5 linked regions of the Homo sapiens genome follow. The protein of the gene in region 2 interacts with the protein of the main gene of each other region in a pairwise test. Each region holds a gene or a part of one and is shown on either strand. Other genes may lie near its edges. The genes, in order: PLCG2, RAD54B, BAAT, SFRP2 and TRMO.

The links.
Region 1: the proteins of RAD54B (region 2) and PLCG2 interact in a two-hybrid assay, tested with the Homo sapiens proteins (one large-scale study listed by BioGRID).
Region 3: the proteins of RAD54B (region 2) and BAAT interact in a two-hybrid assay, tested with the Homo sapiens proteins (one large-scale study listed by BioGRID and IntAct).
Region 4: the proteins of RAD54B (region 2) and SFRP2 interact in a two-hybrid assay, tested with the Homo sapiens proteins (one large-scale study listed by BioGRID and IntAct).
Region 5: the proteins of RAD54B (region 2) and TRMO interact in a two-hybrid assay, tested with the Homo sapiens proteins (one large-scale study listed by BioGRID and IntAct).

What each region holds. Positions count from the first base shown.
Region 1 is NC_000016.10:81,911,780-81,915,295, reverse strand, and holds part of PLCG2 (1-phosphatidylinositol 4,5-bisphosphate phosphodiesterase gamma-2), read right to left. Parts: intron 2,700-3,516; coding exon 2,580-2,699; intron 1-2,579. UniProt on the Homo sapiens protein: The production of the second messenger molecules diacylglycerol (DAG) and inositol 1,4,5-trisphosphate (IP3) is mediated by activated phosphatidylinositol-specific phospholipase C enzymes. It is a crucial enzyme in transmembrane signaling.
Region 2 is NC_000008.11:94,402,109-94,405,624, forward strand, and holds part of RAD54B (DNA repair and recombination protein RAD54B), read right to left. Parts: intron 2,132-3,516; coding exon 1,969-2,131; intron 1-1,968. UniProt on the Homo sapiens protein: Involved in DNA repair and mitotic recombination. May play an active role in recombination processes in concert with other members of the RAD52 epistasis group.
Region 3 is NC_000009.12:101,382,197-101,386,163, forward strand, and holds the start of BAAT (bile acid-CoA:amino acid N-acyltransferase), read right to left. Parts: upstream 2,811-3,967; 5' UTR 2,659-2,810; intron 1,678-2,658; exon of another isoform or gene 1,547-1,677; intron 1,369-1,546; exon of another isoform or gene 1,274-1,368; intron 1-1,273. UniProt on the Homo sapiens protein: Catalyzes the amidation of bile acids (BAs) with the amino acids taurine and glycine. More than 95% of the BAs are N-acyl amidates with glycine and taurine.
Region 4 is NC_000004.12:153,786,278-153,790,287, forward strand, and holds the start of SFRP2 (secreted frizzled-related protein 2 precursor), read right to left. Parts: upstream 2,807-4,010; 5' UTR 2,559-2,806; coding exon 2,057-2,558; intron 1-2,056. UniProt on the Homo sapiens protein: Soluble frizzled-related proteins (sFRPS) function as modulators of Wnt signaling through direct interaction with Wnts. They have a role in regulating cell growth and differentiation in specific cell types.
Region 5 is NC_000009.12:97,905,490-97,909,005, forward strand, and holds part of TRMO (tRNA (adenine(37)-N6)-methyltransferase), read right to left. Parts: intron 1-3,516. UniProt on the Homo sapiens protein: S-adenosyl-L-methionine-dependent methyltransferase responsible for the addition of the methyl group in the formation of N6-methyl-N6-threonylcarbamoyladenosine at position 37 (m(6)t(6)A37) of the tRNA anticodon loop of tRNA(Ser)(GCU).

The sequences.
Region 1 (3,516 bases), on a different chromosome or scaffold from region 2:
AGTGCCTGGCACAGGAGAGGCACTTTACAAATATGTAGAGGGCAAGGAGAAGTTGCTGCAGACCTGTGTTCCCCTACTGCCTGGTCCAAATTCCCCATCCGTTTCCCTGGAGAGCTACTCACCCTCCACCACCCTGCCTGACCAATCCCTTTGTAGCACTCATCACAAAATACTACACTGATTTCCTTATGTGCTCAAACCTCCTCAGTGCTTCTCAGTGAAGGACAGTGACGCTTCACCCCATACCCTGACCAGAGAGGGTTTGAAAAAGTGTGTGTCCTGGGGCAGGGATGTTATTTTTGATTGTTACAATGACTTAGGGTCCCAGACAGACATGCAGTGGGTAGAGACCAGGGAAGTTCAACATCCAAATACAACAGGATCAGTCCTCACACCCCAACTCTTTGAGAAACACTGTGTGGACTGAGCTTCCCTGACAGTGGGCCATGGGGTGAGGTGGGGAGCGGCCATCCTTGCTGATTGATTCACTGAGCCAGCATTCACCAACCACCAACTACATCCCAGCCAATGTTACATAAGCAGGAACAGGTCAAAAGCAAGAAACACTTGGAGTAAGGCGATGTCTCTCATCCCTGCCAGACCATTAGCCTGAGAGAGCAAGGACTGGGCTGTTTTTATCACTCCTGCATCTCTGGAGCCCAGCACAGGGCCCGGCACACAGTAGGTGCTCACCAAACATCTATTAACTTCTAAAAAATAAAAACTTCCATTCTCAAGACACCTCCAATCTCATGGGGAAGACAAGCTCACAAACTGAATGGGGCGTGTATGTAAGTCAGGCAATCAACCTGAGGACCCACCCAACCTCTTCATTCACGCGGTCCCATTGAAGTGACCCCAACCCCATCCCCAGATGGCCTGTCAGAATCATGCCACCTGGCTCAGGGAGGGGGCCATCCTTTCTGCCGGACACTGTCCTGGCAGCCCAAGGTACAGCCACCTGAGACAGAAGCTGATGGAGAGTAACGCCAGCATGCACATACAGGTGGCATCCTGACCATCATCAGGTGAGGCCCCGATCCGGTTGTGTCAGAGCTGTCTCACCGCTTGGGCACCTCAGTTTCAGCCAGTTGGGTTTAGTTGCCATCATTTGCACAGGATGACAGCACAGTGGGAGTGCCAACACCCCACCTGGGGCCTGGCACACAGCAGGTTTTCAATCCGTGTGCAGCGGACTGAACACACCTCCTCCCCATCCAGGCTGAGGAGGTACCACTAAGAGGCTTAGGGGAAAGAGCAAAGGGCAGAGGCACCAATGCTGAGAAGCCCAGGTCACCCTCTTGGGAACAGAGAGTACAGAAAAGCCATGCTGGTGGGAGGCTGCTCTCTGGCTGGAGCCAGTACACAGTAGGTCCTCAGTAAACTATAGTGATAATGACCGTCACCACGGTCCCCAGGGAGGTGGCTCAGGCATAGTGGTGCAGGCAAGGAGGAAGGGAAATCCAAACGCCCAGGGGGCAGCCTGGCAGGGTCACCAGGGGATGGGATCAGGGCAGAGGGAATGGGGAGAGGAGTGGACAGGGGCAAACCACACACCCCACAGTAGCTGCCATGCAGCCAGCACCACCGCGCCCATGTGGAAACACAGGCCCAGAGCATCCACTGCCTCCCATTTTTCACAAGAAGCAATCTGAGTTTTTCAGTGAAATTTCTCAGTTTTTCACATCAGTGTACAAAAGACGCCCACAGGCCTCTGGCTGGAGATTTGGCCCCCAGGCCTCTGGCTAGAGACTCTGGAGTGAAGAGCTTAGGCTTTGGAGACGGACAGGCCTGCATCTGAACCTCAAACTCAGTTGACTATGAGGCTGTGTGACTCCAGGCAGGTCACTTAACCTCTCTGGTCCTGTTTCCTCCCTTGCAATAACTAGACCTACCTCTCACAGGCTGTAGCAAAGGATTCAATCAGATGAGGCCTTGAAGGCAGTCCAGTGTCTAGAACACGGTTAGGAACTCAACATATAGCAGACTGTTACCACCGTAAGAACATGCAGGGAAACCCTGGGGCTGGGGAGATGGAGGGACAGTAGGCTACACGGAGTCTGAGTCACTCCTCGGCTCCTTGTCATTAGTGGAAGTGGGAGAATCTGGCGTTTTGGGGTAACATTAGAGAACCACAGGCCTAGAGGTGGTTGGGCAGCAGCTGCAGTTGGGAGGAAACCAGATCTATATCATCACAGGCCTGGGCTGCCTGGGCTGTCTGGGCTCGAATCCCAGCCCCACCACTTAGTGGCTGCATGCTTCAGCAAGTTACTTAATCTTGCTGTGCCTCAGTTTCCTCCTCTGAGAAACACGGATCATGGTCATGTCAACCCCACAGAGTTACTGGAAGCCAAAGTGAGTTACTACAGAACATCCTGCCCTGGAGAACGCAGACTGTGCCTGGCACGCAGGAGCGCACATTCTCGCAGCGGCTTTTGCTGTGGTGGTTGTTGTTGTCGCTGATGCTGGGGGGGCAGGGCACTGCAGGTGAGCCTCCACCTGAAGTTCCCCCTTGTCTCTCCGCATCTGTCCTTGCCAAGCCCCTCTGTAGAGCATGTGCCTCCCACCCTCGCACCCACCTGAAGGTGATGGCATAGGAGTCGCTCCCCTCTCGCTTCCGGATCAGGAAGGCCCCGTCCCGGGGAATCCTCATCAGCATGTCCTCTGCCTCTCCGCGGCTCAGGCTGTCATAGTACCACCTGCGGCACAGGGCCAGGGAAAACGACCAGGTGAGCGGTCTCCAGGCTGTCAGTGGGCCACCCGCAGAGGACAAGATAATGGCACCAGTGACACCTGGAACCTGGCCCTGGAAACGACCATGGAAATCACACAGTGGGCTTCCCCAGACAAAGGCACCTCAGCAAAGAGAATTTGTGAAAAGAATAGTGGAAGACCCCAGGGGTCTGTTTCAAGCCCAAAATAATACATTGGGCCGAGCACAGTGGTTCACACCTGAAATCCCAGCACTTTGGGAGGCTGAGGCAGGAGGATCACTTGGGGTCAGGAGTTTGAGACCAGCCTGGCCAACACAATGAGACCCCCATCTCTATAAAAAATAAAATAGCCTGGGCACAGTGGCTCACGCCTGTAATCCCAGCACTTTGGGAGGCCAAGGCAGGTGGATCGCGAGAAGCCAGGAGTTCAAGACCAGCCTGACCAACATGGCGAAACTCTGTCTCTACTAAAAATACAAAAATTGGGCCAGGCGTGGTGGCTCACGCCTGTAATCCCAGCACTTTGGGAGGTTGAGGCGGGTGGATCATGAGGTCAGGAGATCGAGATCATCCTGGCTAACACGGTGAAACCCTGTCTCTACTAAAAATACAAAAAATTAGCCAGGCATGGTGGCAGGCGCCTGTAGTCCCAGCTACTCAGGAGGCTGAGGCAGGAGAATCACTTGAACCCAGGAGGCAAAGGTTGCAGTGAGCCGAGATCATGCCACTGCACTCTAGCCTAGGCAACAGAATGTGACTCTGTCCCAAAAAAAAAAAAAAAAAAAAAAAAAGGAAATACAAA
Region 2 (3,516 bases):
TACCATCACGATTTGTTGTCATATCTGTGATACTATATGTTATTTATGATTTTTCTTCAAATCATTTTAACTTAAATTTGAAAAGAAAACTCTTTCTAAGCATAATTTATCTGTGAAACCAAAAGTTTAATGTGCTATTTTTCTTTTTTTTTTTTTTCCTCTCCAGACGGAGTCTTGCTCTGTCATCCAGGCTGGAGTGCAGTGGCGCTATCTTGGCTCACTGCAACCTCCGCCTCCTGGATTCAAGTGATTCTCCTGCCTCAGCCTCCTGAGTAGCTAGGATTATAGGTGCCTGCCACCACACCCAGCTAATTTTTGTATTTTTAGTAGAGACGGGATTTCACCATGTTAGCCAGGCTAGTCTTGAACTCCTGACCTCAAGTGATCCGCCTGCCTTGGCCTCCGAAAATGCTGGGATTACAGGTGTAAGCCACCATGCCCAGCCTATTTTTCCAATAATTAACTAAATATGCTACTATTCAAATTTTTTTAAAGGCTTGTCCACTTGCCACCTCAAAATGGTCCCATATACTGCCAGTGGAGTAGGGATCACAGTTTGGGAAACACTGTTCTAAGTTCTGAGAGTCTCTGAATGATTTTAAATAAGGGAATGCCATGTTCAGAACTGTTTTTCAGAAAACTCAAGATGGTGGCTTTAAGTAGAATACATTATTTGAGAAGCATCAGAAGCAAATATACAGGTTAGAAGCCATTGCAATAGTCTAGATAAAATATGATATTTTTATGACATCGGTTACTAGAGATGCTGCAGTGGAATGACAGAAAAGATTAGGAAACAATATTTAGGAGGTTAAAATAATTAAAAGTTCAGGTTTGACTAGATTCAGAATGTGAGAGAGAAGAAATCAAAGATGATTCACAGACCAACTGAGATAAGACCTTCGAAAGAAAAAGCAGATTTGGGAGGAAATATGAGTCTAGTTAACAGTTTCTGGAAGACAGTATTCCCTTAACTTGTCATCATTCAAGGAGTTCTTAGAGTTGGGGAGAATTTCATTTCCAACTACCTTTAAAGGACAAATTTTAAAATCAAGGGTCTTGGCATTTAAAAACAAGGCAAAACAAAACCAAAACAAATAAACAAAAAAGACTGGAAGAAATGTTAGCAGGGGCCTTTGATTCTTTTTTTCTCCTGTTTTTTTGTGTCCTCTAAAATATCTTTAAGATACTACTATTCTTTAATCAGAAAATGCAAAAAGGAAGAAGAAACTTTTTTCTATTTTCAGATGTAGAGACAGAAGAAAATCTTTTTCCAAAATTCTCATAACCAGGTGCAGTGGCTCATGCCTGTAATCCTAGCACTTTGGGAGGCTGAGGTGGGTGGATCTCTTGAGGTCAAGAGTTCAAGACCAGCCTGGCCAACATGGTGAAACCCCGTCTCTACTAAAAATACAAAAATTAGCCAGGCATGGTGGAGCACGCCTGTAATCCTAGCTACTCAGGAGGCTGAGATGCAAGAATCACTTGAACTTGGGAGATGGAGATTGCAGTGAGCCAAGATAACGCCATTGCACTCCAGTCTGGGCAACATAGTAAGACTCCGTCTCCAAAAAAAAAAAAAAATTCTTATAACCAGAATTAAAAGCCTCTTTCACTTGCTCTTATGACCCTTTACCACACTAGCAGTCGGTAAGCTTTTATTATACCACATTAAGGTCAATTGCATTTATCTGTTTACTCAAATACTTTAAAAGCCACTTAAAAGTAAGGACCGTGGTCCTGATTCCCATATGCCCACCTCCTAGCAGTATGTTTGGCACGTGGCATCTATCAAGAACCACTTTTGGAATAAATGCACACAGTAAGCACTATTCACCTTTCCTACCAATTGAAATTCATAGTGTACCCTCAGGACTCATTATATTAGGATCTTCTTAGAAAACCATTATTGTGTTACAGGTTAAATCAAAATTCAGATTAGATTAAACAAATGATTTATTTTCCTACCTCATTCCCATTACACATTCATAAAGGAATATGATTCCTTCTTTCTGATGTGGTCGAAGATGATATACAAGGTAAGGATCAATCACTACATCCACAAGAGGGAAACAGTTCTTATTGAATACCCACTGGTGATTCTTATCTGGTCGTGGCATAACGAGGGAATCTTAAAAAATGATAAAAGTACAAGTATTGTAATTTCACTTTTTCAGCAACCAACATTATCTTGTTTTCATTACCCTAAGATAGAAATGTTTGCCATCATTTGTGGCCAAAAAAGTCCAAAATTTAGTCACAGTAATGTTACCCAAGGGCACAAAATTTAAAAAGAAAATCTCATGCCTTACTGATGAACGATTTCATGCAAAGAATTACGAAGAGCCTTCCAAACTTCATATACCCAAAAGTGCTTCGAAAGCAATGAAATTCACTATTGTCTAGTAAGGAATTCAATAAGCCACAACATTGAATAGTTCAGTATTCAGAGCAAAGAGAACTATTTCCAACTGAAAGTACAGGTTGGAATTTTGCCAAGATGCATTTGCCAATGTTCACAGCTTCTCATTCTGAAAAGTCTCCCCAAATTTAACATACAGGCTTTCTATCTTTTCAGTCCTAAACACACTAACAATGATCATTACTCCTATTAATTAGAACTGAGAAAAAATGATAAATTCTCCATTGACTTAGCCACCATTATTTGCTTGAAGTTAATTACTACATTCATGAATGTCAAGTTCATAAAGCTTTTTTTTCTGGGGACAGAGTATCACTCTGTTGCCCAGGGTGGAGTGCAGTGGTGTGATCTCAGCTCACTGCAACCTCCGCCTCCCAGGTTCAAGCAATTCTCGTGCCTCAGCCTCCCAAGTACCTGGGATTACAGGTTCGCGCCACCACACCCGGCTAATTTTTGTATTTTTAACAGAGGCAAGGTTTCACCATGTTAGCCAGGCTGGTCACGAACTCCTGACCTCAAGTGATCTGCCCACCTCAGCCTCCCAAAGTGCTGGGATTAAAGGCATGAGCCACTGCACCCAGCCTCATGAACCTCTTTAAAGCAGCATGAAGTCATCATAGAATAACAATGTAATTCTTCAAAACTATGCTAACACAATTTAAAAGATTTACTAAAATATCACCCAAAAAGGCAAAATCAAATATAACTAGAAGGCAGGTCTCAATTGATAAATCTGAAATTAGATAATAAACCCACCAAAATTATTTTGGGGATATATTTGCATGCCTACATCATGTTTATAAAAATTGAATTAGATAAAAAAAGAAAAAAGAATGAGGAGATGAGAAGAGGAGATAAAAAGAAATAGACTCCAGTAGACTATGTAAATATTCATCAGTGTGGAACTATACTGTCACAGGAATAAGAGTTTAGTCATGTTTACCATTAACAAATACCCAGAGGGTAAGTTTTCTCTGGATCTTCCTAGGTTTCTGAGTAACTGAAATGAACTTTCATCTTTGAGGTCAATTCCTGTTAGGTAGGAGACTAGGAAGTAAAAATGGGAAATGTAGTCCTTGGCTTTCCTCTATATC
Region 3 (3,967 bases), on a different chromosome or scaffold from region 2:
ACCAGGGAGAGGCAGTTTCTCAACTGATAAAAACACCTGAAATTGATAATTGGCAGCTTTCAGGAACTGGGCGAATGAGCTCAAACATGCACATTAAGAGTCAAAATGGCAGAGTATGACCTTCCAGGGGCATTCCACCAGAATTTGAAAGAAAGCCTCAGATAAGCATGCATAAAACTCCAGTAAACACACTGTGCATGCCCACATCCCAAGCACAAGCAGGGCACCATGCATGTGGGTGGCTCCCCATAACCCTTAAGGGAAGGATGAAGGGAAAGGGGTGCAAGATGCCAGAAGTAGGCCAGCATATAAAATCCTAGGTTCAAGGATGAACGAGGCACTTGACCTCCAAGATGCCTGCTTGGGTCTCTCCCAAGTGTGTTTTCCTTTCTTTCCTGTTCTAAAGCTTTTTAATAAACTTCTGCTCCTGCTCTGAAACTTGCCTTGGTCTCTTTTACTGCCTTATGCCCCTCAGTTGAATTCTTTCTTTCGAGGAGGCAAGAAATGAGATTGCTGCAGACCCATACAGATTTGCCACCAGTAACTCAGATATTCACCACCCCTAACAATATTATCCATTCAATTTATTTCTATACAAATATCACATGCATCAACCAGCGTGCCCAAACAGAAATAAGTCAATTAGAAAGTCATTAACTTTAGCTCAAACTTATACTTGCTTTTTTTGGTATTTTTTAACATTACATTTCACTACCAGAAAGCATTCCTGAATTGCATAAATAGGTATAACATATATTCAAAGCTTCAAGAAATATTTTCACAGAATCTAATTCTAACATGGCATTAGTCTTACATTAAAAGAAAATTACCCTTCAAACAAAATATAAATAGGACCACAGTACAGTTTCCCAGAATAGGAGGGCTTATTCTATAAAATTCTAGGCAATAGTCTTTTAAAAGAGGGAGAAATATTGATGGGGATGGGGAAGACAGAATAAAGAAATTTTAACAAATGACTTCTGATAGCCTTTCATTTTCCTCAGAAATATAAATTTCAGCTCAATATCATCATAATAGCAAGTCCCTACTGACATCCTTTCTAAGCAAATCAAAATGAAAAGACACACTTATCTGAGCACTCTGGGCAACTCTACAGCTGAGATTATGAAATGAACAAAAAGACTATTTGTCCTCATGAACTGCTAAAATTCCAAACACTGAGGTAAATAAACTCTGATTTAATTCAAGAGCAGAGATTTTAACTTATTTCCAATCGGCCCAAATAAATAGTCCTGATTAAAATACAAAGTACCTGGATTCTTCCTCTTGAGCCTTCTTTTCCAGCAGTAGAGGGAAAATGACAGACACCCTACCAAAACTTGCCCAGAAGGCCAAAACCTCAAATATGCCTTTGGAAGTATAACAGAGCTAACTTAAGTGCTAGGTCACCACATACCTCTTGCTCTAGTTTCCTATTAATTTTTAACAGTTATTGAACCCAATAAATGTATCACTATTTTCCCTCTTCATTTTCTGTTCTCTCTAAATCCGTCCCTCTTAGGGATTGCCACTACATTTTACTCACATTATTTTAATAATTTTCTTTATAGAAGTTGTTTGACCCCTATTGGCACCATTAGGGCATATTTTTCTTCTGCAATAAAATACTCAAGGTAACTTCTGGAGGGCTCTGCATTTGCAAATGGTTTCTTTCCTGAGACAACAAAAGATGAAAACTACAAATGTGATCACAGTAATGAGTAATAAAATACTCAAGCCCCACTTTCAGAATTTGGGGAGGACCAAATCTCCTACTAATCCTCCTCAACTAATTCACATGGTTTCTTGAAATAGCTACAGAACGGAGTGTTAGTAGGATTTTACATGACAATAAAAGGACTATCTCCATAAAAGTACTGGATCTTTTTTGAGGTGATAGAGCATTTAAAAAGTGCAAACTTAAAGGAAACTTAAATTCAACTTAATTTTAAGGAAGTCTGATCAGCCAAATACTCCATAAAAAACTTGAAAACTATTAAGCTACTACCTTGCAAGACTTATGCTACAGATACAACTGATTAAGAATTATTAACTGGGATACATAAAATATTCCTAAAAAAGTAATGTCTAAAAATCTCAGGTGAATATGAGAAAAAGTCTTAAACAGGTACTTAACAGACAATAGGACACAATCATAAGCTTATGGGAAAAGGCTTAATCTCATTATCAAAGAAATGCAAATTAAAATCATGGTGTGTATTTCATACCTAAAAGGTTGGCAACAATTAAAAATTCCAAAAATAAGAGTTGGTTAGGAAGTGAATCACTCAGACTCAAGCCCTACTAAGGGAATATAAATTGGTACCACCACTTTGGAAAGCAATTGGACATTGTCTAATAAATGTGACAATATGAATAACTTTTGACCCAGCAATTCTTCTTCTAGAGAATAAAAATAAATGAATTACAACTACATGCAATAACCTGGATGAATCTTATAAACATAATGTCGTTAGAAACTAGTCATAAATACACATAAATAAATCTTTCAAATTTGTATTTGCTGAACTAAAACTATAGGCCACATTTTTGGAGTAAATCTTTAAACAAAAGCAAGGAAAGGATTACTGAGAGTCTGGATTGTGGTGAAAAATTACATTAAAAGAATGGAAGTAAGTAAATGAAAAAAATACATACCTAGCAAGAGAACCTGCCCCCAAAATTTCAGCGTAGGTTCTATTTTCCCTAAGTGTCGGCTGGTCTGAGAAATAAAGAGAAAGAGTACAAAGAGAGGAATTTACAGCTGGGCCTCCGGGGGTGATGTCACATATCAGCAGGACCGTGAGGCCCCGAGCCACAAAACCAGCAAGTTTTTATTAAGGATTTCAAAAGGGGAGGGGGTGTATGAACAGGGAGTAGGTCACAAAGATCACATGCTTCAAAGGGCAAAAGGGAGAACAAGATCACATGCTTCTGAGGCCAATAAAGATCACAAGGCAAAGGGCAATGCAAAGATCACAAGGCAAAGGGCAAACTTAGAATTACTGATGAGGGTCTATGTTCCACTGTGCATGTATTGTCTTGATAAACATCTTAAACAACAGAAAACAGGGTTCAAGAGCAGAAAACCGGTCTGACCTCAGATTTACCACAGCAGGATTTTTTCCCCATCCTAATAAGCCTGAGGGTACCGCAGGAGACCAGGGTGTATTTCAGTCCTTATCTCAACTGCGTAAGACAGACACTCCCAGAGTGGCCGTTTATAGACCTCCCCCTGGGAATGCAATTCTTTTCCTAGGGTCTTAATATTTAATATTCCTTGCTACAAGAAGAATTTAGCGATATCTCTCCTACTTACACGTCTGTTTATAAGCTCTCTGCAAGAAGAAAAATATGGCTCTATTCTGCCTGACCCCACAGGCAGTCAGACCTTGTGGTTGTCTTCCCTTGTTCCCTAAAATCACGGTTATTCTTTCTTTTTCAAAGTGCACTGATTTCATATTGTTCAAACACACGTTTTGCAATCAATTTGTACAGTCAGATACAATTACAGTGGTCCTGACGTGACGTACATCCTCAGCTTACCAAGATATGAGGATTAAGAGATTAAAATAAGACAGGCGTAAGAAATTATAAGAGTATTATTTGGGAAGTGATAAATGTCCATGAAATCTTCACAGTTTATGTTCAGAGACTGCAGTAAAGACAGGTGTAAGAAATTATAAAAGTATTAGTTTTGGGAACTGATACATGTCCATATTAAAATGAAATCTTCACAATTCATGTTCCTCTGCCGCGGCTCCAGCCAGTCCCTCCATTTGGGGTCCCTGACTTCCCGCAACACATACTATGCAACAATAAGCATAAGAAACCTAAAGTAGTAATGACTAAGATTATAAAATATATATATATCATATATCTATATGACAAGATCATAAAAACCATAAATCCGAATAATGGATTTCAAGATTTATGTGGCAAAAATTGACAGAATTAAAAGGAGAAA
Region 4 (4,010 bases), on a different chromosome or scaffold from region 2:
TCATCCTCCCAACCTCTGGGAAATTCAGTCTGAAAAAGTTATTCCCAAGGCCTTTTGAAGGAGAAAGCACCCAAAGAACCAAAGATACTTGAGGAATTTGGGAAAACTGGTAACTAGAAAATATAGACAAAAGATTGTCTTTCTCAGCCACAGGACACCAGTGTAGTTGGCTCTACTCGGCAGAGCTCTGTATCTCAGGGGGGCCAAGTCTGGACTGGGAGGGGTGACTGGCTAGCGTTCCACATGTGGGCTGTTTCCACCTTGAAAACACATCTCACTAATTACAACAGCCTGCTCTAAGTGGTTCTGTGTCACCTTGTGCCTCTGCCAAGATTGTGCTTGAGTTAGGCAGCATTCATTTCATTGTTATCTGCAAGCTCCCTGGTACAGGTTCTTCTTGCCCTTCTGTGCCTGTTTCAAACTCTCAAAACAAACAAATAAATAAACCTGTTTCTGAAGCTAATCAAAGACGAAGCAAAAATGGTTTAGTGGTCTGATCAAACTTAGGGATTGTATACTAGCACAATTATCAGAAGACCTGCTAAAAGCTCTTCTAAGAGTTTGATTTCTTGGGAGAAGTAAAAAAAAAAAAAAAAGAACAATTATATTGCCCTTCTCTCATTTATAAATGTGTTAATTATGTCTTTAAAATTTAGGTGAAATGAGATTTTCACTAATGTGAAATTTAATGTTCATAGAAAACTATGTGACTTAATAGAAGCGTTATTTATCAAATTAGAAAAATCACAAAGCTGGAATTTTGAAGAACATAAACTTTTATTTTGAAGGAGAAAAGTGGCTTTTTGGAGAAATGTAAGATGCGTAATGTTGCTGCTGATAGTGGGAAGAAATAAAAGCAACATACATAAAACTGCCCTTAAGTCCCCTCACCCAAACAAAATCAAACATTTCCAATTAGGAGCTCTCAGGATGTATATAAAATATTACTAACCTGTATTGGTTGGTCTATGGTACATGTTGGACAAATGTTTGAAAAATGCCAAACATTTGCAATAAATTAGAAATCTAACCAATAAGATGATTGCAAACTCATGGTCCCTGCCAGGAAAGATTGCTAAAGAACTTTGCATTTGCTTTAACTAATGATGTCTGTAGGAAAACTACTAGAGATTGAAAGGGAGAGGCTGCTGAAGCCCTGAAAGGGATTAGGAAGCTCCCTTTTCCAACCCAGGGGACCCAAATCAGCTCAGAGGCATTGTATATGTTTTCCTTTCAGAAAAAATATTGAGAGCCCATGAGGTTTTCATTGCTTTGATGGTTTTTGCACAGGAACTCTCCCTCCGTTTTCTAAAAACTTGGGAATCTCTTTTGCATGATTTTCTCCAGCTAATCAAAACCACTCCTAAGTTAAAAACTGATAGCAATAGAAAAGTGATTTCCAGAGATTCCCTTTATGCCCTCTTCCTCAAGTATCTGAGCAGTTACAACCAATGTTCAATTTTCCACACACTCCGTGCCAGTCCCGGTTTTATTTCCAAAATCTAAATTGACAAAGGACAAAAAGACCCTTAAAAGGTTATCTACTTGTGCATCCTGGTTTTCCTTTCTGTACAGGAAATGTTCCTGTGACTAGAATCCTGCCCAGTGGTAGGAAGGTGCAGAATGAGGCTGAGCGAGGGGCCTCTGGCCAGAATGCTCACCACAAACTCCTCCACCAAACACCACTTCCAACGCTCTGCGCAGCTCCAGTGCTAGCATCTTTAACAATAATCGTGTATCTATTTTTTTTTAAACCGCCGTTCAGTTCTTCGTTTTTTTAGTTTTGTTGTTTTTGTTTGTTTGTTTTATTTTTAAACTGCCCTTAAGTATAGCTGGTACAACTCGGGAGGAGAATGCGCGAGACTTGGGCGGCGTGGGAGGGGTGCCTCAAATTTGATACAGGCTTGTTGTGATGACAGACCAGGTCAGGCAGAACTTCTGCCCTTCCCGCTACTGGCACCCCAAGCAGGGATGCACTGGGATGCGTGGCAGGGGCGGGATCTCCTGGGAGCGTCTCAGCCCAGCAGGGAGTGGGGAAGCAAGAGGGAAGGCTTACCTTCCTCGGTGGCTGGCAGGAGGTGGTCGCTGCTAGCGAGGGGGATGCAAAGGTCGTTGTCCTGGGGGAAACGGTCGCACTCAAGCATGTCGGGCCAGGGGAAGCCGAAGGCGGACATGACCGGGGCGCAGCGGTCCTTCACCTGCACGCAGAGCGAGTGGCATGGCTGGATGGTCTCGTCTAGGTCATCGAGGCAGACGGGGGCGAAGAGCGAGCACAGGAACTTCTTGGTGTCCGGGTGGCACTGCTTCATGACCAGCGGGATCCAAGCGCCGGCCTGCTCCAGCACCTCCTTCATGGTCTCGTGGCCCAGCAGGTTGGGCAGCCGCATGTTCTGGTATTCGATGCCGTGGCACAGCTGCAGGTTGGCAGGGATGGGCTTGCAATTGCTGCGCTTGTAGGAGAAGTCGGGCTGGCCAAAGAGGAAGAGCCCGCGCGCCGAGCCCAGGCAGCAGTGCGAGGCGAGGAAGAGCAGCAGCAGCGAGCCAGGGCCCTGCAGCATCGTGGGCGCGCGACCCCGAGGGGGCAGAGGGAGCGGAGCCGGGGAAGGGCGAGGCGGCCGGAGTTCGAGCTTGTCCCGGGCCCGCTCTCTTCGCTGGGTGCGACTCGGGGCCCCGAAAAGCTGGCAGCCGGCGGCTGGGGCGCGGAGAAGCGGGACACCGGGAGGACAGCGCGGGCGAGGCGCTGCAAGCCCGCGCGCAGCTCCGGGGGGCTCCGACCCGGGGGAGCAGAATGAGCCGTTGCTGGGGCACAGCCAGAGTTTTCTTGGCCTTTTTTATGCAAATCTGGAGGGTGGGGGGAGCAAGGGAGGAGCCAATGAAGGGTAATCCGAGGAGGGCTGGTCACTACTTTCTGGGTCTGGTTTTGCGTTGAGAATGCCCCTCACGCGCTTGCTGGAAGGGAATTCTGGCTGCGCCCCCTCCCCTAGATGCCGCCGCTCGCCCGCCCTAGGATTTCTTTAAACAACAAACAGAGAAGCCTGGCCGCTGCGCCCCCACAGTGAGCGAGCAGGGCGCGGGCTGCGGGAGTGGGGGGCACGCAGGGCACCCCGCGAGCGGCCTCGCGACCAGGTACTGGCGGGAACGCGCCTAGCCCCGCGTGCCGCCGGGGCCCGGGCTTGTTTTGCCCCAGTCCGAAGTTTCTGCTGGGTTGCCAGGCATGAGTGGGAGAGGGTGTGTGTGTGTGTGTGTGTGTGTGTGTGTGTGTGTGTGTGTGTGTTGGGGGGCTGCGTCCCTGGTAGCCGCGTGTGCCCTGTGATGGAGCCCGGGACCTGCCCGCCCGAGGCCGCCTCGGCGAACTTCGTTTTCCCTCGAATCTCCAGCCACCGTTCAGCAGCCTGTCGGTGTGCTCCCCAATGCCGTAAAAAAATCAGAATTATAAATATATTCGTATGAGCAGAACTTTACATGGAAAACGAAATACTAATAAAATGGGCTTGTTATTCTGTTGGAGTGAGTGCCTAGGAAGGGTTTCGTCGTTGTAGAAACGCCCCTACAAGAGTCTCACCAGTCACACAGGACTGCCCACCATTTCCCCGTTTTGGAGAGATTTTTCCTTCTTAAATGAATGGCATGACTCAATACTCGAAGGCATCACGGGCTCTAACACACAGCCGCCCTTGCAGCTGTGCGCTCTGGAAAGCTGGAGTATGGGCCCCCAGGGCACTGTTTGTAAAGACTGGTGGCCGGCACAAAAGACGGGCACAAAAGATGGGCAGGCTGGGAGGGAGCGAGGTAGAGGAAGGAGTCCTGCCTAGAGATCCACGAGGGCTAGAATTAGCTCATTCATCCCCTACGTACCAGGGGGCACCATGCTGGGCGCTGGATGTGCAGAAATGAACAAACAGGCCGGCCTCTGCTCTCGTGGAGCCTGGGATCTAGTGTCTCTGACTGCAAACAGTAAGTTCTGGGTTGGGGGGTGGGCTCCTTTTGCCTAATTGTCCCTAGTCTCCCTA
Region 5 (3,516 bases), on a different chromosome or scaffold from region 2:
CAGTTACCAGTAACATCCCTTTGCTTTGGGACTCTCTCACATCTGTGTCCCTAAGAAACAGCAAAACTTCCTATGTTTGTAGGATTTTTAATGTATTTTATTTTTAATATGGTATGTATAAAACATAAATTTAGAAAGTAACTGTGACCTAGTTTTTCATAACTACAACATCACATACATCCAAATGCCCCTTCCAGGAAGGTACAGATCTTAAAAACACTGTCCCTGCTCAAAATATCATCTGTGGTGGCAGTGGATCTTTATCCCTCTTGGAGTGGATTTGATTTCTACAAGCAGCCAAAAATCACTGTGGGCCATATCTAATAAGCAGGTTGGGTAAATAAAGCCATGAAGTACAATTTTTAGTCAAAAATCAATTATATGGGCTGGGCACGGTGGCTCACACCTGTAATCCCAGCACTTTGGGAGGCCAAGGCAGGAGGCTCACAAGGTCAGAAATTTGAGACCAGCCTGACCAACATGGTGAAACGCCATCTCTACTAAAAATACACACACACAAAAAAATTAGCCAGGTATGGTGGCGCACGCCTGTAATTCTAGCTACTCAGGAGGCAGGAGGATCACTTGAACCCGGGAGGTGGAGGTTGCAGTGAGCCAAGATTGCACCACTGCACTCCAGCCTGGGTGACAGAAAGAGACTGTATCTCAAAAAAAAAAAAAAAAATCAATTATATGGCAATAAGGTTCCTTTACTGCATGGCTCATAGAAAATGGCTCTGAAGGCCACTCAAAAATGAGGAGAGCTCATCACACTCCCCTGTGACGGCGTTTCTGGGAGAGGCTCCAGGCCTCTGCTTGGCCGTTTATCTGGCATGGGTGCCTTCCCCCAATTCCCTGCCTACTCATCCTGCCAGGCTCAGCTCAAGCACTGTTTCCTTCCACACTCCCTCCCAGACACAAGTCAGGATTCTCCTCTCAGAGTGCCCACAGCACTCTGCCCAGACCTTTACTCCAGCACCAAACTTCCTCCCATTTCAACACCTTTAACCTCTTCTAGACTCAGAACTTCCTGAAGTCACTTCTTATTTCTGCAACAGCTCTGAATTTTGCTGTTTGCTATCAATCAGTTCCTGTTTTGTAGTTACACTGCGTAATTTCTCATTTTAATCATTTTTTTAATCAGTAAGGCATATTTCAAACATCTGACACATACTGCACTGCAGTTTAAAAAACAAAACTTTCCAGGCTGGGTGTGGTGGCTCACGCCTGTAATCCCAGCTACTCAGGAGGCTGAGGGAGGAGAATCGCTTGAACCCGGGAGGAGGCGGTTGCGGTGAGCCGAGATCGCGTCACTACACTCCAGCCTGGGTGACAGAGTAAGACTCCGTCTCAAAAAAAAAAAAAAAAAGAAAGAAAGAAAAAAGAAAAGAAAGAAAAACAAAACTTTCCATAGTAGTTTGCATTAGACAATAACCACAGGACAAGTGGTAAGCATAAAGTGTCTAGAAGGCAGGACTGTTTTGTTCCACCATAAAATCCTTTTACAACTGACCAGCCTCCTCCCATCAACTGTATACAGTGATGTAATGATTTCTATCAACAAAACTTTTAAAAATAAAAAGATCAATTTTAAAATCAAAAGCTTTGTTTAAAAGTAAAGCCTTAGGAGCCAAAGAGAAGCACAACCCTCAAGTGGCATCACCACTCATGACCACGAGACTGCCGTGTCCAGAAGTGCAGGGGGTGCCCTGCATACGGCACTTGGCTGAAGTTTGCATGTTGGGGCTAAAACCAGTTCCTGGGCCCTGGCAGGTGGCTGCCTCCACCCAGAGGAAGGGGTGGCTTTTCCTTTGCAAAAGGCAACAGTGTGGGCTGGCTGTGGCTCTGACAGGAAGAAATGGGGAAATCTCAGAGTCAGTTGGCATGTATCTCCAGTCCCAACTTTTAGACTTCTTTTTCCCATCAGAAAAACCTCCTTCAGGTTGGATTATCAAAGCCAAATACCCCCCTAGCCTCTTCATTCTCTCCCTGCTAGTAAAGCAGGGGAAAATCTAGTATCTTTGGTTGTGTAAGCCTTTATTTTCTGGATATAGAATGAAAGTCTTCATTGTCTCAATAAGGAACTCCAGCTTGCCTTTGCATGTCACTGAGGTGTGACATCCCAGAAATCACACAGGTAGTGATCTGACCCCAGAGATGGTCCCCTGCTCTCTGGGGATACGGACATCAAGTTCCTCTGCCTTTTACTTCTCCCAAGATCAAAACTCAAGTCCTTACAATGGCCTATAAAACCCTTAGGTGACCTCGTCCCTTTTCTAGTGCCTCTTTGACCTCATATCCTTCCGCTCAGCCCTCCTCAGTCCACTCTGACCACATGACCTCAAACGTGCCATGCACCCTCCACTTTGCGGCTGTGCACTGGCTGTCCCTCAGGCCAGCATGTCCTTTCTCTGGACAGGCTGGCTCATGTCTTCACCTCTTTGACCTTTGCTCATATGTGTCTTTCTCAGTGAGGCCCACTGGGGCCACCTATTTAAAATTGCAACAGGCTAGGTGCAGTGGCTCACACCTGTAATCCCTGCACTTTGGGAGGCTGAGACAGAGGATCCCCTGACCCCCAAGAGTTCAAGACAAGTCTGGGCAACAAAATGAGACCCCGTCTCTTTAAAAATTCAAAATAGGTTGGGCACGGTGGCTCACACCTGTAATCTGGACACTTTGGGAGGCCAAGGCGGGGGAATCACAAGGTCAGGAGATCGAGACCATCCTGCCTAACACGGTGAAACTCAGTCTCTACTAAAAATACAAAAAATTAGCTGGGTGTGGTGGCGGGCGCCTGTAGTCCCAGCTACTCGGGAGGCGGAGGCAGGTGAATGGTGTGAACCCGGGAGGCGGAGCTTGCAGTGAGCCGAGATCGAGCCATTGCACTCCAGCCTGGGCGACAGAGCGAGACTCCGTCTCAAAAAAAAAAAAAAAAAAAATCAAAATATTAGCCAGGTGTTGTGGTGCACACCTGTAGTCCCAGCTACACAGAAGGCTGAGGTGGGAGGACTGCTTGAGCCCGGAAGGCTGAGGCTGCAGTAAGCCATGTTCTTGCCACTGCACTCCAGTCTGGGTGACAGAGTGAGACCCTGTCTCAAAAATAAAATAAAATAGTAACAACACTCCAAGCCTGCTGTATTCTTAAATTTTTCAGTAACTCTTATCACCTTCTAATATTATATAATGTTGAATATGTTTGGTCTAATAACTTGATTGCTTATTATACTTTTAATTTGTCTCTCTCCTCCCCATTAGAATGCAAGCTCCATGACAGCAGGGGTTTTTTATATCTGTTTTGTTCACTGATGTATTCCAAGAACCTAGACCAATGTCTGGTACCTAGCAGAAGCTCAGTAAACAACTGTAGAATGAATAAATGAACTTCCCTCTTTATATGGTTATGCTGGCTCCTTACTGAGTTGTAACACAAAGAACAGCTTTTTGCAATCTGACATCTCCTTGGCAACCAGCTTCTTCTTTTTGATGGAGTCTCACTCTGTCACCCAGGCTGGA